Linked DNA regions of Homo sapiens: regions 2, 3, 4 and 5 are each reported to be linked to region 1. Evidence: microRNA targets listed by miRTarBase, many of them from high-throughput screens and not tested one by one. Region 1 holds a microRNA gene; each other region holds the end of a gene's coding sequence.
What was found. Region 1 holds the annotated microRNA hsa-miR-4743-3p (UUUCUGUCUUUUCUGGUCCAG, at 2,914-2,934, shown strand). A microRNA usually pairs through its seed, bases 2 to 8, with sites in the 3' UTR of a target mRNA and lowers its output. Matches are read on the target gene's strand: a 7mer-m8 pairs with bases 2 to 8, a 7mer-A1 pairs with bases 2 to 7 and ends in A, and an 8mer does both.

Region 1 (5,103 bases):
TCACCAGGAGCCTCCAGATTTGCTGAGAGTCACCTGGGGTCTCCCATGGATATCTGGCTCACTAGCCAAAGCCTGTCACTCCCAGGTTCCCAGGGAGTCTGAGTGCAGTGTCTGTGGCCACCTCATGGCCAGACCAGGAACTGTGACCCCCTTAGAGTCCTGCTGTAGTGGGGACACACTCCATGCGCCAGCCACTGCAGCCTTCCTGGGATGCAGGTACCACTCAGTTGCCAAGGCTCCCTGCAGCCTGTGTTTCCATGGAGGGACAGAAATCAGAGAAGGCTGTTGCCTTGGAAACCCTGTTGGCAGCAGTGACTCAGCTGGTCTGTAGCCACCTTCAGCCCTCCAAACCTGCAGGCCTCTGGGGAGATCTGAGCCCTGACGAGGGCAGGCCTCGTGGGACAGCAGCCCTCCCTGCAGGCCTCCACCTGCCCACCCCCAGGGGCGCTGAGGCGAGAACAGAAAGCTGTGTTTGGAGTGTGCTAGGCTGGTGCCCAGCGTGTGCTTGGAGCTCAGTGCATGCGAGAGAGTCCTGAGGTGTGTTTTACCCACAGGAGACACTGGGGAGGTGGTATCAGCCATTCTAGTCAAGCCAAGTCCCCAGTGCCCTCCTCCCCTATGGCCCAGGCGGGTGCAGAACACAGAAGACTACACGCAGTTGGTGCTTTCACAGGCCAGCCTGTCTGCACCAGGCAGATTGATGAGTTAAGAGATGTTTGGATGTTCCGGGCCTTTCTCCACCTGCTCACCTGTAGCCCCAGCACATCACAGTTGTGGGGACAGCCGGGGGCCGGGGGAAACTTTTTCTTTTCCTTCATGCCTGTTATACCTTGCACACCATTCCCCACCCCAGCTCCACCATGCCCCTTGCCTACCCCTTGCACCCTGACCCCTAACATGCTCTAGCCACAGCAAACTGGCACCACACATGCTCCTAACTCTAGGCCTTTGCCTGCGCCGTGTCAGCCTGGGACATCCTCCCAAATTCCCTGTGCTTGGCCAGCTCACCTCTCACCTTCCTCCTGCCCCTCGCCCAAGACAGTTCTAGACGCTGCTCCTTGGGGTTCCTGCAACGATCCCTTGTCCCCAGCGGGGCACTTGCTGCTCTACTGTGGGGGGTGATTATCCCGCCAGACACCGAGAGGGGCAGTTGTGTGCACTGTTTACACCTGGGTCCCAGACCCTGTCCAGAGCCGGGCACAGAAGTGTTTGGTGAATGGAGAAATGAGCCATCAAATGGGGCTTGGGTTAGCCCCCTGTTCTCTTCCACCCAGGCCTTTGCTGGTGTTTGCAGCTAGTTTCTCCTCCTCTGGGTTCCAGGGCGCCTCTGGCCATAGGACTTTTATGACACCGATCTCGTGCTGCCCCCAGTGGTGCTCCGGCACCCAGCCCTGTTAGAGGAGTTTAGGATTTGTTCTAAGGGCCATCCACTGTCTGAGGGCAGGAACCAAAACTGATTTTTTTTTTGGTTCACAAGGCCCAAAACAGAAGAGATGCTTGGTAAATGTTTAAACAATGAACTAGTTACTCTGAAAGGTGAGATTCGTATGAACTCTGCAGCTGGAAAATGACCCAACTCATGGGACATCTCTCACCATTCCTCAGTCAATACCAGTAATAATAGTAACTGACAATACTTACTATGCACCGGCCATGCTCCAGCCTCTGTTCTAAGTGTTTGCCTCATTTATTTAAAACTCGCCACCACCCAGAGAGGGAGGAACTGTTACCATCTTCTCTTCAATAGATGAAGCAACTAGGAGACCCAGAAATTGAGTAATTTGCATGAGGCTGGGTTGGCTCCAGAATCTGTGTCCTTAATTAATCACCCTCCTGCCTCTTTGCCTAAACAACAGCAACAATATTAGTGGTAATGAAAGTAGTCATAGTAGTAGCAATATATTTACTTCATTATTTATTTTAATTTTGTTATTATTACCAGTATTTACCATTAAACATATGTGTGTATGTTTAAGATATATTTAATGGTAAATACAGATAATAATACATACACAAGAAATATACACACACACATTTATAAACAAACAAGCTAAACATTTATATATATATATATATATATATATATATATATATATATATATATATAAGCTAGACTATATATGTGTGTATATATGTACCGTTTACTGTGGGCTGTCACAGTTCTAAGCATCTAAGCACTCCAGATACATTCATTAATTTAATCCTCCAGCCACCTTAAGATGTTAGACACTATTATCCTCATTTAACAAATGAGGAAACTCATTTGATGAAATGAGTACAGAGAGGTTAAACAACTTGTACAGGGTCCCCAGTTGGTAAGGGATGCAGCGGGGATTCAAACCCTGGGAGTCTGGTTTCGGAATCTGCACCCTTAAATATGCCAAAGATTCAGACCTCTGGCCAGGGAGTTGGGGCCAGCCTCTCTGGCCCGAGGGCACGCCCACTCACAGAGGACATGAAGACAAAGCATAGACTATCTGAGTGGGCTTGCTGGACTGACCCAGAGTCAAGCCAAAAAGGAAGGAAGCCCTATTGGGTTTTCTGCTAGCCCCTGCCAGCCTATGTGACCTTGAGAAAGTTGCTTGGTGTCTCTGTCCACTGATCTTCTGTTCAGTGTAATGGGGCAAGGTGGATGGGCTTTGACAGGAGTTGTGATGAGTAAGGAGCTTAGCTTCTCTGCCTGGAAGGAGCAAGGGGAACTCTGGTTCCTCTCCCACCTCCCTCCAGGTTGGCTGTTGCATTACGGGAGGACCCCCCCCCCACACACACACAGCTTCTCTAGGGCTGTTTCCTCTAGGTGGGACAGCCCCTGCAGGGCTTGAGGGTGGGCAGCACCAGGTATCTGCTGACTGTCCCTCCTCTCCTGCTGGCCGGATGGGACAGGAGGCATGAATGAGCCATCTTTCCAATGCCTTTCTGTCTTTTCTGGTCCAGGTGTGGCAAAGGGAAGCTGGAAGATGGGGATGGCATCAACCTGAATGACATCGAGAAGGTCCTTCCAGCCTGGCAGGTAGGTGCAGGGGCAGGCTCTCTAACAGCCCACCCCCACCCCTGGAGTCCTGATCCTCTTCCTGGACAGGACCTAACCAAAGCACTCCTTCTGGCTGCTTGTTCCAGCAAGGAGTGTAACCGCCTGTATGGTAGTAATAGGCAGGGCTGGCTACCTGCCATTCTCCAGGGTGTCCCATTGTGATCGTGTGTGTGACAGCCTACTCGGTGATGCTGCAGGCCCTGCTGGCAGGCCTGATGTGCCCTAGAGATGAAATAGACCATGCCCTGGCAACTCAGTGAACTTGGAAGTTTTTGTCCCTTGGCCTGAAACCTCTCTGCAGGTGAAGTGTCCTGTGGTGTGTTCAGGTGGGACTGGCAGGCCTGGAAGAGATTCTAATGTGGCTGGGGCTGTCTTTAGGCTTTTGAACAGTGGACTTGCCCTGCTGGCCTCCAGGTGTCTGCTATGCTTGCTCTTTTTTTTATTGATTGGGCCTCTTTCCTGGAATCAGGCCAGGTTCCAGGACAAAGAGGATTCACTCAGTGAATCCAGGTCTCTAGATACTTATAGTGCTGGACTTTTGGTGGAAACAGCAGGAGTCTAGCTGCTCTCAGGAGTGTGACTGGGCCTGCTGCAGGGGTGTAAAAGCAGTGGACCTTCCACAGTGACTGAGTCTGCCGCTGCCAGTGACCATGACCTACCACCACACTCCACTGTGCCACCCTTCCCTTCTCTCCTGATTCTTCTCCTGCTATTTTATCTATATCCATTCATCTCTTCCTGGTGCCTTTGCCATTTTGTTTCTTCTCTGTTCATGCCTTGGGCCTATCAATGAGAGACAATAGAGCATACAGTTAAGACCTCATCTATTTGATTATGATGTGCCTTGGTGTGGTGGTTTTCTTCATGTTTCTCCCACTTGGGATTTATTGAGTTTCTTGGATCTGTAGGTTTATAGTTTCATCAAATTTGGAAAATTTTCAGCCACGATTCCTCCTACTTTCCCTCAACCCTGGGGTTCCAATTGTATGTATTCTATGCTTCTTCATCTTTTCCCATGGCTCACCAAAGCTCTGCCTGATTTTTTAAAGTCTTTCTTTACTCTCTGTGTTTCATTTTGGATAGCTTTTATTGCTATTTCTTCAAGTTCACTAATATTTTATTCCAGTGTCAAATCTACTGTTAATCCCATTCAGTATATTTTTCATTTCAGACATTGTAGTTTTTATCTCTCGAAGGTCATTGTGGGCTTTTTTAATAAGCCACTGTGTCCAGCTAGAATCTGCATTTTTAAAGCATTGTAGGAAATTCTGATTATCAGCAAGAGTTGAAAACTTAAAGTCCTGGCTGATAATGCTCCTGGCTTGACTGCTCCTTGGAGTATCTACAATTCACATGGGTACCCTTAGGACAAGGTAGACAGGCTTCTTGATCCCCAAACACAGACTTTTGGTGTTTGAGGAATTTGCGGTCCTGTGAGAGCACAATGGGATGACTTATCTGAGTTTTCCTAGTGTTCTTCAAAGCCCCTCATAAATAGGGCTGGCTGGTTCACTCGTCTGGCCTTGGGTCCTGAGGGTCAGCTGGCCTAGCTATTAGCATATGTGGTGGGGACAACTCTTAATAGTATGGACGTGTCCAATGCAATGTGGGATATTTAGGACTCCTGGCCTCTGCCACTGAATGGCCGTCACTGGAGAGGGGCAGGCATAGTGACCACCAAAAACATCCTCCTACTTCCAGATTCACCTAGGAGATATTGTGCATCCAGCTGAAGGCCCCCAAATGGGAGGGAAAGCCCACCTCTAGCCTGAGGACCTCCAGCCCTCCTATGGGAGTCTTGAGCCTGTACATAGATAAGCGGGCTTCCTAGAGACTTTCTTAGACAAAAATCAGGGCTGGCCTCCCCTCCCTACCTGGAGGCAAGAAGGAAAGAGGGTGACAAAGGGAGGTTGGCCTCAAGCCCATTGCCTACCTGCCCTCCACTTCTGCACCCCAGAAGAAGAGGGGCATAAAGATCCTACCAGCTGTGTCCCCAGCATGTTCTCAACCCACAGAGGCCCAGACCCCCATCTCCGGCCCCTTCTGTCCCTGTTCGGACTCCTTAGCAGGCA
Region 2 (5,103 bases), not on the chromosome of region 1:
GTCTCTTTTTATTTTCTCCGAGTTGGCTTCATTACCTTTCAGGGTCTCCTCCTAAGGTAGCGGAGACTTGCAGCTCCAGGCTTACACCCCAGCAGCCTGTCCTCCCCAGTGGAGAAAGTTTGCCAATTTCCCCGGAGTTGCAGCAGTGGTCTTTGGGGGCTGGTTCTCATTGGCCACACCAGGTCACATGCTGACCAGTCACTGTGTCTGATTGGCCAGGCTGGGGTCGCACTTGGGGTTGGGGTCCACTCCATTCAAACCTTAATGGATTGTGAGATGGGATATGGTGGTCCCTCAAAGGAAAAGGAAGAGGTGCCAGGAGACAAGACAGAATTTCTCATTACCTTCTCCCACATTTTGTGTTACAGAAGGGGCAGGATGGGGCTGGGAAGTCCAACCCCACGCATTTGGGCTCAGCCTTGGACATGGAGGCCTGACAGCTGTTGTCCTTTGGGGATCCTTTGCTTCTCTGGGGCCTCAACAGAACTAAAGAAGAAAACCGACCCTTTCCCCAACTACATGTACCAGCGGAAGGAAGGAAGGCCAATGTAGGAACCCAAAATGCTTATTTCTTCTTCTCTTACTTCCCTCTCACAGAAAAGTCTTACGAATGGGGAAATTCCACCAACATCCAGACCAAAAAGAAAAAAGCCCAAATCGAAAAAAAAAAAAAAAAAAAAAAAAAACAAAAAAACCCAACCAAATGTTTTTGAAATATTCAGAGCCGAACAGATTCTGAGAGATAACCCAGTCCAATAACCTCTTTCCTTCTTATTACTCATCTGTTTTTGAGGGGAAGTAGAGTTTTGATTATTAAACTTTATTTACATAAGTGATTCCAAATACATTTTCTTGTAAAAAACAAGAAGACATGTTTTGCCTAGTCTGTTAGCAAATACGTTACAGGGCACCTGCTGTGTGCCAGGTCTTAGCCTCACAGTCATGAACCAGGCTGACCCACCAAGATCCTTGCCACTGTGGGGCTGACCTCTTGGTCAGGAGACGCAGCAAACAAGGGAATCAATAAATAAAGTCATCTCGCCAGGCGCAGTGGTCCACATCTGTAATCTCAGCACTTGGGGGAGTCTGAGGTGGGAGGATCACTTGAGCCCAAGAGTTCGAGACCAGCCTGGGCAACATAGCAAGATGCAATCTGTAATTTTTTTTTTTTTTTTTTTTTTTGAGACGGAGTCTCGCTCTGTCACCCAGGCTGGAGTGCAAGGGTGCTCTCTCGGCTCACTGCAAGCTCCGCCTCCCGGGTTCATGCCATTCTCCCGCCCAGTCTGTAATTAATACTAAAAAAATGAAGTCATCTTGCACACTGACAAGTGTCACGAAGAAAATAAAACAGGAGGATGTGTTGAGAAAATGACTAGGGGAGCTACTTCGGGTTTTTTACTTTTTCCAATTTTTAAAATTTTGATTTATTTAATTCAGGTAGTTTTGAATGGGTAATAAATTCACTTGGTTTGAAATGCAAAGAGTGCAAGATGGCATACAATGAAGTCTTTCTCTATCCCTCTCACACTTCAGCCACTCAATTTTCCGTGGTGGGGGAGGTGGCTTTTGAAACAGGGGAATCAGGAAAGGTCTCTGAGGAGGGGACAGTTGAGCAGAGACCTGACAGAGAAGAGTCAGCTCCGCAAATACCCCAAAGAGTGTTCTAAGGCAGAGGGAACAATCAGTATGAAGGCTTAGAAGCAGGATAAAATTTCCCCCCTTTTTTTTTTTTTTTTTGAGACAGAGTTTTCACTCTTGTTGCCCAGGCTGGAGTGCAATGGTGCAATCTCGGCTCACTGCAACCTCCGCCTCCTGGGTTCAAGTGATTCTCCTGCCTCAGCCTCCCAAGTAGCTGGGATTACAGGCACGTGCCACCACACCAGGCTAACTTTTTGTATTTACTACAGACAGGGTTTCACCATGTTAGTCAGGCTGGTCTCGAACTCCTGACCTTAGGTGATCCACCCAACTCGGCCTCCCAAAATGTTGGGATTACAGGCATGAGCCAGCCACCAGGTCCGGCCAAATTTGGCATTTTCAAGACAGACTTGAGACCTCCCAAGTGCGGTGGCTCACACTTGTAATCCCAGCACTTTGGGAGGCCGAGGCAGCTTGATTCCAGGAATTCGAGACCAGCATGGGCAACATAGCAAAACCTTGTCTCTACAAAAAAAAAAAAAGATCTCTGTGACCACCAAATTAACCCCACACTCTCTATCTCACTGGTAACCCTTGCAATGAGTTTAAAGTGGACTTTTTACATGTATTAATATATGGTATTCTGGGTGTTTCCTTGATTTTTTTCATTCCCTTCGTATCTCTGGCAACTTTTTATCCACTTAATGGATGTTTTCATTCTATGTCACCCACGTCATTTACACACTTCATGCCACCCGTTTTTTTAAGAGACAAGGTCTAAGTCTGTATCCCAAGCTGGAGTATAATGGCGCAATCATCGCTCACCACAGCCTCGAACTCCTGGGCTCAAGCAATCCTCCTACCTCATCTTCCCAAGTAGCTGGGACCACAGATGGATGATACCACACCCAGTTAATTTTTTTTTTTTTTTTAGAGATGGGGTCTCGGCCAGGCGCAGTGGCTCACACGTGTAATCCCACCACTTTGGGAGGCCCAGGTGGGCAGATCTTCTGAGGTCAGGAGTTCGAGACCAGCCTGACCAACATGGAGAAACCCCATCTCTACTAAAAAATGCAAAAATTAGCTGGGCTTGGTGGTGCATGCCTGTAATCCCAGCTACTTGGGAGGCTGAGGCAGGAGAATCGCTTGAACCCAGGAGGTGGAGGTTGCAGTGAGCCGAGATTGCGCCATTGAACTCTAGCCTGGGAAACAAGAATGAAACTCTGTCTCAAAAAAAAAAAAAAAAAAAAGAGAGAAATGGGGCCTCACTATGTTGTCCAGGCTGGTCTCAAACTCCCTGACCTCAAGTGATCCTCCTGCCTTGGCTTCTCAAAGCACCAAAGCACTGGGATTACAGGCATGACACACCTTGCCCAGTCCACACCTCCTTAAGTTGCTGCTCACTCCGTGCTTCAGAAAAGGATGTCCAAGGGTTTCACTATTCCCTGCCCTCATCTTTTTTTTGTTTTGTTTTGTTTAATTTTTTTTGAGGAGTCTTGCTCTGTCTCCCAGGCTGGAGTGTAGTGTCACGATCTTGGCTCACTGCAACCTCCGCCTCCGGGGTTCAAGTGATCCTCCCACCTCAGCCCCTCAGCCACCCAAGTAGCTGGGATTACAGGTGTGTGCCACCATGCCTGGTTAATTTTTTGTTTTTGGTAGAAACGGGGTTTCACCATGTTGGCCAGGCTGGTCTTGAACTCCTGACCTCAAGTGATCCACCCGCCTCGGCCTCCCAAAGTGCTGGGATTACAGGCGTGAGCCACTGTGCCCAGCCTCCCCTGTCCTCTTGATGAACATTTAAGCTATTTCCAATTTCTTGCTCTCACATCACTGCTACCGTAAAGATCGTTATGTACATATGCAAGCGTTCTCTTACACAGGGGTCTTGCTACCTGTTTTGTACAGCACTTAAGCTAAGAAGAGTTTTTTTTACAGTTTTTAAGCCTTGTAAGAAAAAAGAAAAACTGAAGAGTGTGTAAACCAGACCCTATGTCTAGCATATCTAAAATATTTCCTATTTGAACTTTTACAGAAAATGTTTGCCGGCTGGGCCTGGTGACTCACACCTCCAATCCCAGCACTTTGGGAGGCTGAGCCAGGCTGATCACTTTAGCCCAGGAGTTTGAGACCAGCCTGGGCAACACAGCTAAACCCTGTCTCTACAAAAAATTAGCCTGGCATGGTGGTGTGGACCTACAGTCCCAGCTACTCAGTGGGCTGAGGTTAGAGGATCGAATGAGCCCTGGTTATGCTACTGCGCTCCGGCATGGGCAACAAAGACCCTGTCTCCAACAAACAAACAAACAAAAAACCATGTTTGCTGACTGTTGTTGTAGTGTAGGTGGCACCCAGAAATGCCACCCCTCCTATGTCACAGATGGGAAAGCTGAGACCCAGAGAGGAGAACACAGTTACCCAAGGTCACACTGAACTGGTAACTCATTCAACTAGGTAAGTTTGTTGAGCTGCTGAGCCGGGCGGGCCTGGCTGGGGTGAGTGAGGTCCAGAAATTGATTAAGTCAACTGGGTGCAGTGGCTCATGCCTGTAATCCTAGCACTTTGGGAGACTGAGGCAGGCAGATCACCTGAGGTCATAAGTTTGAGACCAGCCTGGCCAACATGGTGAAATCCCATCTCTACTAAAAATACAAAAATTAGTTGGGCTTGGTGGCCCGTGCCTGTAATCCCAGCTACTTTAGGAGGGTGAGGCAGGAGAATTGCTTGAACCCAGGAGGGGGAGGTTGCAGTAAGCGGGGATCGAGCCAGCGCCCTCCAGCCTGGGTGACAGCGAGAGACTACATCTCAAAAAAAAAAAAAGAAAAAAAGAAATTTAGTCTACCCATTCTCCCAGACAACTCAGCCTGAGGAAACACACTGAGAAACAATGATAACCTCCGAGGAACAGGGTTCAAGGTCTCCCAGAGTGGGGTGGAGAAGGGGAGGGGAATTAATGTCAAAGCTTGGCCTGGAAGGATGACGTGCTCCCCAGGTAAAGGAGGTCAGGACAACATCAACATCCGGACATGGGACTCGGCTTGGACATACGCTGGAAAAGTGGATTCTCTCACATAGTCAGCTGGCCCTGAGAATTGTTGGTTTTACACTCAGACCTTGGTGGCTTTCCGGGTTCTGGGGGCTCAGGCAAGAGGGCCATAGGCCAGATTCATTCCCTGTCTCCAGGCCTCAGTTTACCCGTGTGTAAATGTGGAACTAACTGATTTCCCAGGGCTCGGGCGCCTCACCCGGGCCAGGTGGCGCTCTACCCAAGGGGCGCGACCAAATCAGTGACGTCACTCGGGGCGGGGCCGGCAAGACACGCTGCGGAAGCCTCAGAGGGTGTCTGGGCTCAGCCCGGAGCCGGCGTGTGGGGGCGGGGGCTCCCGGGAGGGTCTCCTCACCTCCGGGCCCTCCTGAGGGCTGGGATGATCCTGCTGTCCTCCGCAGGCGAAACTGAGTCAGAGCGGG
Region 3 (5,103 bases), not on the chromosome of region 1:
CCTCAGGGGCCAAGTAGGTCATGTCAGTAGTGAAAGTAGCCTGGTTTCCCCCGTAAAGAAAGTAGAACAATAAGAAGGCATTGTGGTGTGAAGTTTTAGTATTCTTGATTTGTTTTTAAAAATCCTGTATTATACCAGTGGGGGTTAACACATTCAACCAAATTCATCAACTAAGGTTAACTGCAGTTGACATCAATTACTTTAAGCAGATTTTTAAACACAGAATTTTAATAGTGACCCTCATATTAACTTCTTCTGATCTCTTTTAGGAATTTATCAAAGAGCTGCTTTCTCGGATAAGAGGCATGAGGAAACTGAGCCCTCCGCAGAAGAAGAGTGTATGATTCTGGAACAGGGTGAAACTCTCCCAGAGACGAAGAAAGAGTCCTGGGATTTGTACTTCATGAAGACTTTTGTGAAAGAATAGGTGTCCTTATGAACAACGTTTTTGTTTTTTTTTTTTTCTTTTTTGGTGTGAAGGTGGGGGGGTCTATTAGACATTTATTCAAGAGCGTTCTTTTTTTGGTTTTAAAGGTTTTTGTTAATGTAATATTTTAATAGCAAAGATATCATGACTCTAGCCACAGCCTAACCAAGGATTATCAAAGGAGGTGGACACTCAAGGAAGGGCCACGCCAGGCTGCGTTTCCTGCAAGGACTCAGATGTTCAGTACCTTATGATACAGGGAAGATAGTTTTCTTACAAGTAGTTTGGTAATATTTTTTTTCTTAAGTTGTACATTTGACTCAGCTGTCAAATTTCTCACACTTGTATATATCTACACACAACTAAGTTAAAATGTTGATGTGAGTTTTATTTCACATGGATGGAATAAACTTGTGGTTGTCCTTTAACTGGAGGTCCCAGCACATGTGTTTTCAAGAGGCCACTAGGCATTCTTCACTGAGTGCTGCTGACTTCAACGTTCACTTTATGCACCAAAGTGAAAGAATTCAGTGTATCCGTTATTTTAATGCACTACACCACAGAAATGTTAAGTTGGTCAAGGGCTTAATTTATGGAATTTCTATTATTTCATTGGTTGGGATGCTTTGCCAGGTCATGTGCTTATTGTCTCATTTTGTAGTCTTTTAAAGTTGTATGAACCCTTAATTTGAAGAACTAACTTGATTTCTAGAGAAATATCCACACTATCTCAGTGGTATTTTGCATTGGAAAAAGGAAGCACTGTGTAGCAGTGAATTGTCTGCTTTCCACCGAGTACTGTGTTTATTCTCTCTCCAGGAAAGCAGATCAAAAGAAAGTTAGCAGATCGAGTGTCTTCTTCCTTAGAAATAGGTTCTGGTAGCTTCTGTGCCTGGGTAGTATCAGACCAGTGGGAGTAAACCGAGTGTTAAGTGTCAAGGTGAGAAAGCCTCACATTCTCTCAAGACAGTTGCTCTAGGAGCTGAGTTGCTGGTTTGGAAGTGTGGAGATTGCATTTCTGGCTTCTCTCAATGGCTTGTGTTGAGGACTCTGGGTGCTCCTGGCCCTAATTGTGCACCCTGATCCCCGTGCTTGGAGCTAGGCCTGGTGGCGTGCTCTAGCCCTCTCAGTTACCAGCTCTTTGGAGAAGGATCAAAATTCAGATGGAATGTGGGATGGGTAATAGGTGAGAGTAGAAACCCTTCCCTCCAGGAGGCCCCCGCTGACTCCCACAGAAACCCACCTACCATAAGATGTCTTCAGGTGGCCTTGTCCAAGGATGGGGGTCAGGCATTTTATATCAAGGGTGCTCTGAACATATTTTATTTTTTAAAAAAACTATGTTTGTGAATTTTGCGTATACTGGCAAGCTTTTGAAAATGTATTTAATTTTGTATTGTTTACCAATGATTTATTTACAAGATATTTACTCAAATAAATGGAGCTGCTTACAAGCCTGTTGACATGTGTGGCTTGCACAACACGTTAACATGATGGTTTTGCTGTGTCAGTTTCTCTGCAGAGGTGAGGACCAAGCACCTCACCTCGTTTCATTTCATTTTCAAGGATTTCTAGGCATGTAATCCTGGCCCTCTCCTCAGGCATCTTCAGATCAGGTGGTGAAAGCAAAGGAGCTGGGCCACATTCTTGGGCTGAGAAAGAAGACGAGCTCTGTGTGCTCAGCCTGGCACTGTCCTAGGCCATGCTCCTTTCATTTAATTAAAACTCCTCTTTGCCATCTTACAAGAACCCTCAAAAACATTTCAAATTAGTAAACTATTCCACTTGTTAGAATGCCTTGCACCATGGAAGTCGGAAAAATACAGAATGGGCAGGATTTCTGTTAGGCTTAATTGACCAGCCCATGTGATGGTCTCAGATGAAGTAAGAATTGACTTTTCCTCCAAAGGCCTCTGCTCCCACCACACACTTCCTCCCCACCTTCCCTCCTGCCCTGATCCCCGTGAGTGCTTCAGCAAGAAGTTTGGGCCTCTTCCTTGACTCCCCAGTATGCTCCCAGTCACCCAGCTTGTCCTCTGTGAATACTTCTCAAACCTATCCCATGTCCAACTTTCCTGGATTGCTGCCACCACCTTGGGAACAGATTCTCCATGTCCAGGCTTGTCTCCCTCTGATCCATCCTCCACCCAGTTGCTAGAATAGTCTGACGACTCCACCCCCTGCTTGAAACCCGAACCCTCTGCATGCCTTATGAGAAATGTTGTCTCTGCCTCTCCCACCTCATCTTTTGGCCTTGTGCTCATGCCCAGTTCTGCCAAATTCCTTGGAGTTTCTGGCGTGTTCTATGTATTTTCTTCTCTGGTGCTTTGTAAAATCTGTTGCCTTGGCCCAGAACGCCCCCTCTGCCAACAGGCTGTATCCAGAGAGCTGGGTTAGACCCCCTCCTAGGTGTGTTCCCCCTCAGCTCCAGCCTATACTCTGTCATAGACGCATCCACAGTATCATTATTGCCTATCCATTTGTTGGTGTCTTCTGTTAGAATCTGGGATCCTCGAGGCTGGGAATCTGGACTTCACCAAGCATCTGGTCCTAGGCTTGGCCCATCAAAGAGATTGTGTGTTTGCCAGTTGAATGAAAATGACAAAAGATTCAAGAAAACTCCACTGTTTTCTTCCCAGCTAGAGTTGTGGTTCTTAGATCTGAGTGTACATTTGAATCACTGGGAAGCTTTAAAAACAATGGAAGCCTAGGCCTCAGTCAATTCTGACCAGTTAAATCAGCGTCTCCAGGACAAGAGCTGGGGTGTTTGTTTTCAAGCTCTCCAGCTTGCGCATCGCTGGGCCATTGGGTCACTCTTGTGCCATTGGATGGCCAGATGCATTAGCCTGACCTCAGCTCTCCATGTTTATGCTATTACAGCAGGTGGCAGCTGTGGTATTAGCACACTCACTATTTCTCATACAGAGTCTTCTCACTAGGGCAATGGCTCCAAATTATCCAACTTCTAGTGCCGCGCTCACTTGAACATTGGGAAATCTCAATGTAAACTTCATGGAGTGGCTTCCATTTATAACGATCATAATAAAAGCACTGTGCTAAGTGCATGCTTTATCTCATTTAATCCTGACCTTAACCTTATGAGGCAGGTGGCATTCTCATTTTACAGATAAGAAAATAAACTCAGGCTTAGCAGCTTACCTAAGTCCACACAGCTACAACACTGAGATTCAAACCCAAACCTATTTGGCTCCAAAGTCCCATAACCATTAGACTTTCTTGCCACTCTTAGGGAATTACTCTTAGTCCCACTCACAAGAGTGAACCCCAGAAGCCACATTTAAAGTGAGCCAGGTCCCTGAGCTGGCAGGGTAGGGGAGGAGGCCTTGTGGATGGAGGAGATCCCAGCCACCTGTGGGGCTCTTCCTCACTCCTGGGAACTGAGGGACTCCCTGCTCCCCATCTGCAGTGCAGCCAGGCCCTGTGATGCTGGCCCTCCTTATCCAGAGTCCTCTTGCCTTTTCCCCATAACATAAAGCTCCTGGACTTGGGCTTAGCAGCTGAGCAAGGAGTATCCAGCCATCAGTTTCCTGAGAAAGAGCAGCTCAGGACAAGGTGATTTTCAATTCCTGAAACACAGGAATTAAACAGGTTTTTACTTATTTATCACTGACATAGTTTGGATATTTGTCCTCTCCAAATCCCATTTTGAAATTTGATCTCCAGTGTTGGAGGTGAGAGGTGTTTGGGTCATGGGGGCAGACCCCTCATGAATGGCTTGGTGCCATTCTCCTGGGATTGAGTGAGTACTTACTCTTAGTTCCCTCTAGATCTGGTTGTTAAAAAGAGCCTGGCACCTCCTCCCCTCTCTGTCTTACGTCCTCTCTTGCCATGTAACAAGCCGGCTCTCCTTCTGCCGTGATTGGAAACTTCTGAGGTCCTCACCAAAAGAAGATGCTGGTGCCATGCTTCCTATACAGTCTGCAGAAGCACGAGCCAAATAAACCTCTTTTCTGTATAAATTGCCTGCCCTCAAGTACTTCTTTATAGTAACACAAACAGCCTAAGACAATCACCTAAAGTCTCCATAAAAGATTGTGTGCTGTGCAAAATCAGCTTTTGGAAACCTAAGCTGTTTTTGACATGACTGCTGTTTAGCAAGAGAGTGGCAGGTCCACAGCTACTGGACACATCCCCATCCCTACTCAGCCACCCTATTTTTGCCTCTGAGTGAAAGGTTCTGGGGCTTCCCTCTGCTTCCTGGGAACCTTTCCTGGAATCTAGCCACTTTGAGAGTGAGCCTGTGTAGTCATGAGTCATATCTGTCCCTCTATGGCCCCTATCTACTTCCTTTGACTCTTGTCTTTGGGTGCTCAGAGTCAAGGAGTCAGCACGCTTCAGTGCTGCTGCATAGCCTAAGAGAGAAGTGCTGTGGGTGGCAGGGACCCTTGTCTGTTGTCTAAGAAAACAAAACTCCTATCGGGTAGTTGGAACTTTCTGAAAGCCATTTTCAAATTGGACACAAGCATACCACTATTTTCCCCTACTGGTTTCTCTTTGCTTGAATTAATTTTAACCCAAATAGTCCTGGAGAATTATTCCTCAGAACTAGTCTCATTTCCTTGAGGGCTTGGGGTACAACCCACTGTGTGTTTGTAATTTGCCTGTGAAAATGGAGTGGCTTCTCAGTCTTCTATGAGTGAGAAAGAACAGTGCAG
Region 4 (5,103 bases), not on the chromosome of region 1:
ATACACAACAACCAACTTGTAAGACATGCAAGTGTCATTGGCTTCATTTTATAGATGAAAAAATGAAGGCTCAGCATCTTGTTAAGGTTATACATCTAGGGAACTTCAAAGCCAGGTAATCTCCTCATCAAGGAATATACTTTTAGCATAAAAAATCTCAAGGCCTTCTTTTGAGCCCTAAAGATACCTCTTACCTTGTCACTGAACATAATGTTGAAACATGCCAAATAAAGGGATTCAGGGAAACAGGGTGTCAAGTTATGATTCAGTTTTAATTCTTGAGGGTACAGTTTTATTCTAGTGAAATCATATTATTAATAGGTTTCATCCTAGTTTGATTTAGAGGGAGAAAGAAAAAGAGAGAGTGAAAGAGATAGATAGACAAACTTTGATTTCATTTGCAATTCAGTTAAAATTTATTTTGTCTTTGAGTTTGGAACTGACAAATTAACTCCATTTTCTTCCCATTTTTTATTCATTTTAGGTCAACTCGTTTTCTTCAGAGACAGCCTAGGCACAGGCCCTTTGAGGCGTGAAGGCTCAACCTGTGGATCCAGGCTCTCCACTCTGAGCCTAGCCCTAAGGCCTTCCCCCTCATGCAGGTCATGAAAAGCAGGTGACAATAGGTGGCTGGAGGAATTTCCTATGACCTGACTCCTCCTTGGGGGTCAGAGATCTGAATGTGTCATCATAATTGGAATTTTATCTGCATGCTTTAAAACAAAACAGCAACCACTCCCCCACAATTCTGGCTCAGGCTCTGTAAGACACACGCTGAGATTTGAGGAGGTGATGGTGAGAAGTGATGCCTTCTGAGCTCAGGTGAACCAGGATGTGTTCTTCTTTTTCCTCAGATAGGGTCTGAGACTCCCAGCAGCCTTTCATCAATGACCAAACTCCAAGAGCAGGTCTGGCCTGCGGTGCAGCAGCTAACACTCATCTAGCCCTTACCATACTCCCAGTGCAGGGCTAAGTGCTTCACACATATTATCTCACCTGTGCTCACAACCCCCCTGAGGTAGCCACAAGTACCATCCCTGAGGAATCAACTCAGCAGAGTGAAGGAAACTGCCCAAGACCACACAGCTAGTAAGTTCAGGAGCTGGGATTGCAATCTAGACTCATCCACTTCCAGTGGGAAGGGGAAAAGAAGAATGGAGACAACCAATCCCCAGTGAAAGCCTGGAAGCCAGGAGCAGAGCCTTCATTGTGCATGGAAGAGAGGTGTGCTTCTAACCCAAACTCCTTCCCAGGTCTTTTATGTGAGTAAAAATATAAATTTCTGTTGTGTTTGAGCTGTTATAATATTTGGGGGTTTATTTGTTGCAGCAGGGAGCATTAGTCCAAGTAGTCCATATAGGCACCTAACCCAGCCTTGTAGGCTTGAGAAGGCCAAGTATGCTGATTCTGAAGACTAGGTAGTTGCCAACTAGGCAAATAAGAGGGGTAAAGGGGTTGTGCCTAGGCTCTCCCAGGAAGCTGGAGTTAGGAACTAAGGCCAGCCCAGTGGAGGCCAGTCTGAGATAAGGCCTCCTCAGTGGGCTCCTCCTGTCAGCCTGGCCTTATAATACATATCTCTCTCCTTCCAGGCCCTCAGCAAGAGGAAGAGCCAGCTTCTAACATGTGGTGAGTGAGCCAGAGGTAGAGGTTGCAGGCCTTGAACAAATGCAAGTGGGGGAGAAAACAGACAAAAAACAATACCACCCTGTGAGTATGTCTCCTGGTCTTATCTCCATACTGTTTCCTGACTTCTTTTCTCCATAGTCCTAATTGCCCACCATACATCACATTTAAAATTGTTGAGAACTTTGGGAGACTCTGTCAGGGAGCCACGATCTGCTGCCTGGCTCTCCCATCCTGGCTAGGCATCTGCCTTCAGGCCTGCATGAGAAATCCTTCTCCTGCCCCATCACTCTGTTCTGATTTCCAAGCAAATGTTCCCTCATCACGTATCACAAACTGCTCTGCCCTGAGGGAACTTGACGGTGGTGATGGAAAGCTCCCACTGCCTCCTTCTGTGGGGTTTTTTTTGTAAAGACTGGAGTCTTCGTCCATCTTGGCAAGAAGTTGAAGACCCTTTTCTCCTTATGTTTTGCTGTAGTCATCCTTTCCATTCATTCAAAGCTTTGCCATAAGCTCATCCCCATGGCTTTGTAGACAAAACTCCCACATCCCCCTGGTTCCCCACCAACCATCCCACCCCTGAATAAACAACAGCTCATTTGTAAGAGATTTTAATTTCATCTTGGTATGCCATTAAGGAGTGGAATAAGGATCTCTATTCATTTTCACTCACATAGTATCTCCTACATTCTCCAACTGGTCTTTACCACAGAAACCTGTGGGGCCATACAGCATCTGCATAATTTTCACTCATCAGACTGGTTTGGGTTTCTTGGTGGTTTGCATAAATTATAAACAAGAGCACAAAAATCACACAACATAGACTCTACCATAAGGGGACATGTTCCCTCTGGCCTTGCCAGAGTGATAGGGACGTGTCTCTGTGTTCAAGTCTCCAATGATGTCCCCAGAAATGAGGCCAAGCCTATCCTGGCCCCTCCTGGATGGGTCCACAGTGACCCGCTGTCTTCCCCACCAACTCATTCTGGGTTCCCAGGAGACTTCCTAGCACAGAACAATACCATCCTAGCACCGCAACTGGAGACCAGGGTGTGGAACTGTCCCCATGTACAATGGCTGCTGGGTCTTCTGTGCCGAGGATCAGAGGAGTGAGTTGGAAGGAAGAGCCAAGGGTTTCCACTGGAACCTTCTGCCTCTATGAGCGCCATGAGGTTCTTTAGAAACAGACCCTCTAAAACAAGGGGCCCCAAACTTTTTCTGTAAGGGCCAGACAATACAGATAGCAAATATTTCAGGCTTTCCAGGCCACAGACAGCCTGTTATATATTCTTCTTCTCCTTTTTTTTAATGACCTCAAAAAAAAAGTAAAAACCATTCTTTGCTGGCAAGCCATAGAAAGCAGGCCCGCAAGCAGGAGTTTGCCCAACCCTGCTCTAGAACACCACCAGGCCCTCCTCTATCCCCTCAGCCTTCACCTCCTCCCCACTCTGGGACTCTGGGATCCCTCTGAACTGCTCTGAGCTGGTGTCTCCTTCAGCACAGGCTTTGCAGAGGGACTTCAGCAGGCAGAACTGCCCTCTGGAGTTCAGGAGCCCTCCTGCTCTGCAACCCTATGTACCCTCCTTTGCCAAGTGAGTGGCCTGGTTGTATCTTAAACAAATATCAGATATTAGTCTCAGCCCTGCTCATGTGTCCTGGGAATGAATTAAGCCTTGGTGTTTCCCAGTGAGGTAGGTACATACTATTAGCCTCATCCACATTTGCAGATGCTGAAGCTCAAGAGCTGAACCAATCATCCTAGCACTGCCCAACAACCACTTGTCAGAATTTAAAAGAAAGCCCAGGAGTCTGGGCTTTACATTTTCTCAGAACATGATCAGAGATTATTCTGTCCCACCCCTGCCCAGTGATTCAACCCCAAAGAGAGCAAGAATGCAAGAGAGAACACCATCAGCCACACAGAATTTCTTTCCAGATCTGAAAGACACTCTGAAAACAGAATGAACCCCAGCACTCAAAGCTATGGGGCTAGGTGGAGCAGCCCTCTCTGCCCTGCTGACAAGTCTTGTCAAGCTAAAAATAAAGTTTATAAAAGTAAATTATCTCATTTTATAACTTAAGTGCATCAAGCATTTCCTTAAATATAGTTCACACTGAAAATAAAGTTACTTTTGCTGTACAGTTGGTGTCTGTTATAATTAGGAATAAACTTTGAGGGTAAAATACGAAAGGTTACACACTCACACACACACATCTATCTATCTGTCCTTCTGTCTATTGGTGTGTAGATGGATAGACATATGCACCTCTTGACAAGAGCTTCCCCGACATGGTGGGAAGTTGTTAGGAGTCCCTAAGTATCTAGTTTGCATGAGAATGTCTATATTAAAAGTCTCTGTCCTTAATGATAAACACGTCTTCATATCTAATGCTAAGACTCTTATTAGAAACATTAAACTATGCAATCCATAATGTATTCAGTCTTTGGAAATGCTGAGCTACACCATATCATTATACAACAGCATCCCCAACAAAACTCCCTCCCCAACCCACCTCTTCCCTGGCCTCCCTGTCCTAAAGCCAGTGACCCCTCAAAGAATATGGTTGTTCCATATGGGAGCCTAGTCACAGAACTCTAGGGGAAGACTCAAGATGTGAAGTAAGAATTCTGCATGGAGTACAGATGGTCAATGGGGTTTCCCACTCTGGACTGCAGAGGCCCAGCTTCTGAGGTTGCTAGGAAACAATCACCCAGGTTACTGAGGGAGGTGTCGTCGCTATCCAGGTCATGGAAAAGGGGCTCGGCACCTGAAATGGAGATGAAACACTGGCATGAGGGTCTTGAAGAAGTGACTCATTTCAGTGCTAGGATATTCAGCTGAATTCAACAAGTGTTGCCTGAGCACAGGCTCCAGGTGAAACTTTCTACAAAAAGTCTATATTCTCTTTAGGGGGCTCAAGTCCAAAGTGCAACAAGTGAAAACAATCTAAACCAGGATATGACAAAGTGCTAAATTGAGTGCAGCATAAGCAAATGTCACAATGTCTAGACAGGGAGTGTGGGGAGTAGGCAGGACATGTCACCAGAGGCTGGAGAGACAGGGCAGAGCTCCTATAGGACTTGGGCCTGAAAAATGATGCTTGAAGGAGGGATGGTAAAACCAACAAACAAAAAAACAAAACAAAAAGAAAGCTCTTTGAGTGAAGCTAATGAAAACTCCTGTGATAACATTTGTTCTTTCAAACACCAAGGGTCTACTATCAGCTGTTACCCCAAATTTGTAATGCAAAGAAAAGGAAGGTTAGGTGCCTACCTTCAACTAATTTACACCTTTGATAGGGAAGCCAGTAGGGCACACATTGGAACAGCTGAGAAATCACTGCAACCAGGATCTGGAGGCAAAGAATGTTCTGCCTCTGCTTCAAGTAAATAGGAGAGGTGAAAACTGGAGTTTATACAACTTGTCATGGGGCTTTAAATATTCATTTTATGAAAGGACTCATCACAGGGATACTTCA
Region 5 (5,103 bases), not on the chromosome of region 1:
AAATGTGTGCAGCTCGGAAGAAAAAGGTTGTGGTCCTCATGTCCCGTTATTCATTTGGTGTCTTGGGGCTGTTGATGTTACAAGTCAGCTTCATTGCTTAATGTGATTGTGAGATTGCATGTTTTCTTTGTGTGCATATTTTCAACTAGGCTAGTTTGTGAAATTAGTAATGTTTTACCTGAAAGATTGAGAAATCAAAAACATCACAGCTATAAAACTGGCATTTGGCTGGGTATGGTGGCTTATGCCTGTAATCCCGGCACTTTGGGAGGCTGAGGCAGGAGGATCACCTGAGGTTAGGAGTTGGAGACCAGCCTGGCCAACAAAAAATCAGCCAGGCGTGGTGGCACGTGCCTGTAATCCTGGCTACTTGGGAGGCTGAGGCAGGAGAATTGCTTAAACTCAGGAGGTAGAGGTTGCATGAGTTGAGATTGTGCCACTGCACTCCAGCCTGGGCGGTAGAGTGAGACTCCATCTCAAAAACCCCAAAACCTGGCATTATCAACTGCAGAGTCAACCTGTATAATTTTAACAAAACAGAGCAGTATTTCTGTTCTCAATTTTCAGAGTTGGCAGGAAGATCAGTATTCAAACACTGCAGCAAGTCACACAGTGTTATTCCTTGTCACTCAGAAAGCCTCTCTCCAGCACCAAGGCCTGACTGAGCCTGCGTCTCTTCTCTTACAGGCATGACAGCAAGCGCTGTGGCGGCTTTGATCCTCATGACGTCCTCCATCATGTCGGTCGTGGGGTCCCTGTACCTGGCCTACATTCTGTACTTTGTGCTGAAGGAGTTCTGCATCATCTGCATCGTCACGTACGTGCTGAACTTCCTTCTTCTCATTATCAACTACAAACGACTAGTTTACTTGAACGAGGCCTGGAAGCGGCAGCTGCAACCCAAGCAGGACTGACGCCCGACAGACTCCACCCTAACAGTCTCAAGCCCCTTTCCATTCAGTTTATTTTGCAGCAGGTTTTTATTATTATTATTATTATTATTATTCACAACAGACACTTTCCCTAAGAATCTCAAACTGATTTTTAAAAATCCGGTAAATTAGAAGGGGCCCTCGCTATTTTCTGTGTCAGTCTTCATTTTAAATATGGATACAAAAAGGATACGCCGAGCCAATCAAAGACAAGCTTTAACTTTACTTTGAAGTGTTTCTGAAATGATAAAATGTAGCCCTAGCCCCCTGCCCTCAATTGTAAAGTGAGCAACCATTGCTAGTAATTCTTTAATGTGTATAAATTCAATTTCAGGTATAACAAATGTGATCATGACATGAAAATATTCTAGAATAGATACTGTATTAAATATTGCCATGTTTACAATATGTAATATGTTTTTAGCCGATGGATTTAAACATGTAGATTCAACTAGAATCCATTTGTGATATTTGTAAATAAAGGTAGAAATATTAGATCCATTTCTGCAGAACTTACTGTACAGTTTAGTTGGAGTGTAGCACTGAAGAACTGTCAGCTCAGCGTTGACTGAGGAGATAGTGAAAATAGCCTATACACAGCATCTTGTGAAAAGTACTGGCAGCCGTGGTTGCAGCAAATAATAGGGCAAAAAAAATAATAATAGGGTGGTCGGTTCCCTTTCATCTCCCTCTTCTGAAAGGAAAAAATTGAATTGGAACGTTCAAGTCCAGTTTGTGTTCAGTCATAAAACTGGGCCAGTTGTTAACCTTACAGAATGAGTCATGTGGCCAGACCTTCAAGTCCAAGGCCTTCAGACACTAAGGATGGGAAAATGGGTATTTTTCTTTGGAGAAAAGCTGGAAATATAAACATGGCATTTTTAGGTAAAGTTTCTTCCACTAGTTGAATTTTCATGCAGATATTTTTCCTTAACGTTGGTGCCAGTCAAGCAAAGAGTATTATGATGGAAAAGACCAGTCCAAGCCCCATCGCTCCGGAGTGGGAGCCAGTGTTCTTGCTAATTGTTTCTTTCTGCACTAACCACTCAGATGTCTAATTTAATTGTTTTGCAGTCAAATACTGGATTTGTAACCTTCAGGGCTGACATGCTGCCCAGTTTGCTTCATCGGGAGAATAGCAACAGGTAGACACATCTCAAGGCTAAATCTGCTCATGTCGCCACTGCTCTCATAATGACACACATGCAGTAAGAAGACTTTTGTAAGGGGATTTGAGTACACCCAAATGAAATTGTGACAGGATGTTTGTATGGTTAACATCTGATATCAGAATGTTAAAAGTGCCTTCTGTCTTAAATCTCAAACCAAATATTTTGTGTGTTGACCTTGGGCAGAAGAAGTGTCCTTCCCTCCTTTCTTCACCGTCAGGTAGAAAACCTGCACTCTGCAGAAGGGTCCTGTGTGATCACTTAATCCTCTGGTTGAGAAGCAGCAGTAATGTTTTTGCTTCCAACCTGATTAATCATTTTATGTTGAAAATAGTCAATGAGACCAGTATCTCTTGAGTGCTTTATTTGCCTTCTCTTTGAAGGGAGGGGACGGGCTCTGCTCTGTAAACTCAAATGTGTAGAGTCAGCAACAATTCCGTAGCTTCCAACTGACTCAGAATTGATGCAACGTAGGTCTTCTGGCCCGAGGCAGGTATCAAGTCCAAATCATAATGAACTTTTCACCAGTTTCAACCAGTTTCTTAAAAGAGAGCTTAAGTCAAGATTTCATCAAGACTTGTGTTTTCCCATGAATGTGAATCTTTCAATGGCTGTTGGAGTATGTATGTACTGTTCTTGCATTCTGAAGTAGTTAAAGAACTCTAGAAAGTACTGATTGGCCATCTGGTGTCTATGGAGAAAGAAGTCCTCACGTTTGAGGGCTGTACAGTGAGGCCATCTTGTAGCAGCGCATCCAGCTCTACCAAGGCAGTCCTCTGGTTCTTTTTTCTAAGCTACAGTGGAAATGGCCTAATGGTTAAAACTGTGGTATACATGACATCGGTTGTGCTAAACAAGTTCCTCGTGTCCCAATATCCAATGGTTTTTCATCCTATTTTGTATCAATCAACAGAGTATAGTTAAAGCTTGTCTTGATGTTGCATTCTTGCAAATGTCTTCAACTCTTACCTGAGAAAACATGGCAAAATGGTCAGCCAGACCCTTCCAGTTTTTCCTTTGCTTTTCTAAGCCTCGGGGAAACCACTGTTTCAGTTGTATAAAAACTTTTGCCACATTCCTATGGCCCAGTCGAATTAATACCCTTTTTCTCACTGAGAGAGGAACACGTACTGCCTGTCATAACAGCATTGTAATGCCAGTGTCTCAGTAACAGAATCCTGGTGGGTGTTAATTGGGTGTTTTTTGCCCTGGAGAATTCAGATTCCTTTCTATACCTCCGATTCTGCCCAGAAGAGGGGGGGAATCACCAGTGTTACAAAATTAGAAGATTGTTTTGCCTGTTTTAGACTGAATATTTGAACACTGCAGCATTACTAGCCACCAGTGTTAAAGGACAGATGAGGGGAAACATTTGTTTTTAGCAGTAATTCCATGCCTCATCTTTTTTAAGTGATTTGTTCCAAATGAAGCCATTTATTGACTTGATGTTCACAAATATCATTTGAAGAAATAACAGGAATTGGGGTTAGATGATAAATTCTAGGGAATCTAGGTGATTTGGAGGATTTCATTTGTTTTGCATTACAGCTAGTTGCTCTCACTAAAGGTAAATTTCCGGTGAAATAACTCAGGTTTAACTAGCTGTGTGCCCAGAATCACTGTTCCTTCATACATGTGTCCTCTCCTTAAATTCATTACTTTCAAATGATGTTCAAAGCATTGACTATTTTCATTCAAAGAAACTACATTCGGCCGGGCACGGTGGCTCACGCCTATAATCCCAGCACTTTGGGAGGCCGAGGCGGGTGGATTACCTAAGGTCAGGAGTTCAAGACCAGCCTGGCCAGCATAGTGAAACCCCATCTCTACTAAAAATACAAAAATTAGCCAGGCGCAGTGGCACACCCCTGTAATCCCAGCTACTCGGGAGGCTGAGGGAGGAGAATTGCTTGAGCCCGGGAGACAGAGGTTGCAGTGAGTCAAGATCATGCCACTGCACTCCAGCCTGGCCAACAGAGCGAGACTGTCCCCCCCCCAAAAAAAAAAGAGAGAGACTGCATTCAAAGAGGACCAAGACTACAGTGAAATTAAAACTGTTTGCTGGCTGGGCATGGTGGCTCACACCTGTAATCCCAGCACTTTGGGAGGCCGAGGCGGTTGGATCACCTGAGGTCAGAAGTTCGAGATCAGCCTGACCGACATAGTGGAACCCTGTCTTTACTAAAAATACAAAAATTAGCTGGGCATGGTGGCGGCACCTGTAATGCCAGCTCCTCCAGAGGCTGAGGCAGGAGAATTGCTTGAACCCAGTAGGTGGAGGTTGCAGTGAGCCACAGTTGCGCCATTGCACTCCAGCCTGGGCAATGAGTGAAACTCTGTCTCAAATAAAAAAATAAAAATAAAAACTATTTGTTGACTTTTGTTTTTCATTTAGTTTTGGAAAAGACTATTTGCAAAAGTACAGAGTTATCTTCAGCAATTACTTCACAACTTAGATTGGTACCAAGAGTGACAGGAGATCTTGTCTTGGAAGATCATTATTAGATGCCAACAAGGAGACCCACTGTGATTTCTGGTAACCTATTTGGGGAAAAAGACCTAATGACCTAATATGCAATTTCTGTCCTCGTGTCTTTTTCTCTAACACACAGTCATGGGTGAAACATTTCAGACACCTCAGGCAGCACTTATGGTTTCTAATTGTGAGAACTACCCTTCCATCAAACAAAAAGGGCAAGGGTGGGAGCCCCGGCTACTTGGTTAAACATTTTTTACTACAAATTCGCCCAGAAAAGGTGAAATATTTTGTTATAAAACTGTATTAAGCATGGCCTAAGTATTTATTAGGTATATGATCTGTGTAGTATGTTCCATCAGAAATATTTCTTACTAGTGCTTTAAGCTCCAGAGTAAACAGTCATTTAAAATGGAGTTCACTGGGCAGGTTTCCCCTTTAATCTAGATAGAAATACTCTTTATCAGAGATTTAAGGCACTGTTTTGCTAACTGGTAAATAAAACCAAATGTAAATATGTAAGAAT

Region 2: miRTarBase lists PPM1N as a target of hsa-miR-4743-3p. Seed matches in the 3' UTR shown: 7mer-A1 at 594-600.
Region 3: miRTarBase lists PPP1R14C as a target of hsa-miR-4743-3p. Seed matches in the 3' UTR shown: 7mer-A1 at 987-993 and 7mer-A1 at 1,659-1,665.
Region 4: miRTarBase lists LMX1A as a target of hsa-miR-4743-3p. Seed matches in the 3' UTR shown: 7mer-m8 at 3,853-3,859, 7mer-m8 at 3,471-3,477 and 7mer-A1 at 2,839-2,845.
Region 5: the mRNA of VKORC1L1 is a reported target of hsa-miR-4743-3p. The part of its 3' UTR that is shown has no 7-base or 8-base seed match.

The regions. Positions count from the first base shown.
Region 1 is chr18:48,667,735-48,672,837 of GRCh38, forward strand. It overlaps MIR4743 (microRNA 4743), which reads left to right and starts at 2,866; the gene lies at 2,866-2,934. It overlaps CTIF (cap binding complex dependent translation initiation factor), which reads left to right. Exons shown (of 12, transcript NM_014772.3): 6 at 2,935-3,010.
Region 2 is chr19:45,501,649-45,506,751 of GRCh38, forward strand. It overlaps PPM1N (protein phosphatase, Mg2+/Mn2+ dependent 1N (putative)), which reads left to right. Exons shown (of 5, transcript NM_001080401.2): 5 at 369-865. The coding sequence ends at 437. LOC107985314 (a long non-coding RNA gene) reads right to left here. Exons shown (of 2, transcript XR_007067269.1): 1 at 5,037-5,103. Among named protein-coding and RNA genes, the nearest start is that of VASP, 3.3 kb to the right of the region's middle. RefSeq lists a silencer at 4,892-5,103.
Region 3 is chr6:150,248,477-150,253,579 of GRCh38, forward strand. It overlaps PPP1R14C (protein phosphatase 1 regulatory inhibitor subunit 14C), which reads left to right. Exons shown (of 4, transcript NM_030949.3): 4 at 270-1,916. The coding sequence ends at 344. Among named protein-coding and RNA genes, the nearest start is that of PPP1R14C, 110 kb to the left of the region's middle.
Region 4 is chr1:165,199,649-165,204,751 of GRCh38, forward strand. It overlaps LMX1A (LIM homeobox transcription factor 1 alpha), which reads right to left. Exons shown (of 9, transcript NM_177398.4): 9 at 2,219-4,392. The coding sequence ends at 4,232. LMX1A-AS2 (LMX1A antisense RNA 2) reads left to right here and starts at 4,399. Exons shown (of 6, transcript XR_922234.2): 1 at 4,399-4,499.
Region 5 is chr7:65,953,387-65,958,489 of GRCh38, forward strand. It overlaps VKORC1L1 (vitamin K epoxide reductase complex subunit 1L1), which reads left to right. Exons shown (of 3, transcript NM_173517.6): 3 at 688-5,103. The coding sequence ends at 914. Among named protein-coding and RNA genes, the nearest start is that of GUSB, 26 kb to the right of the region's middle.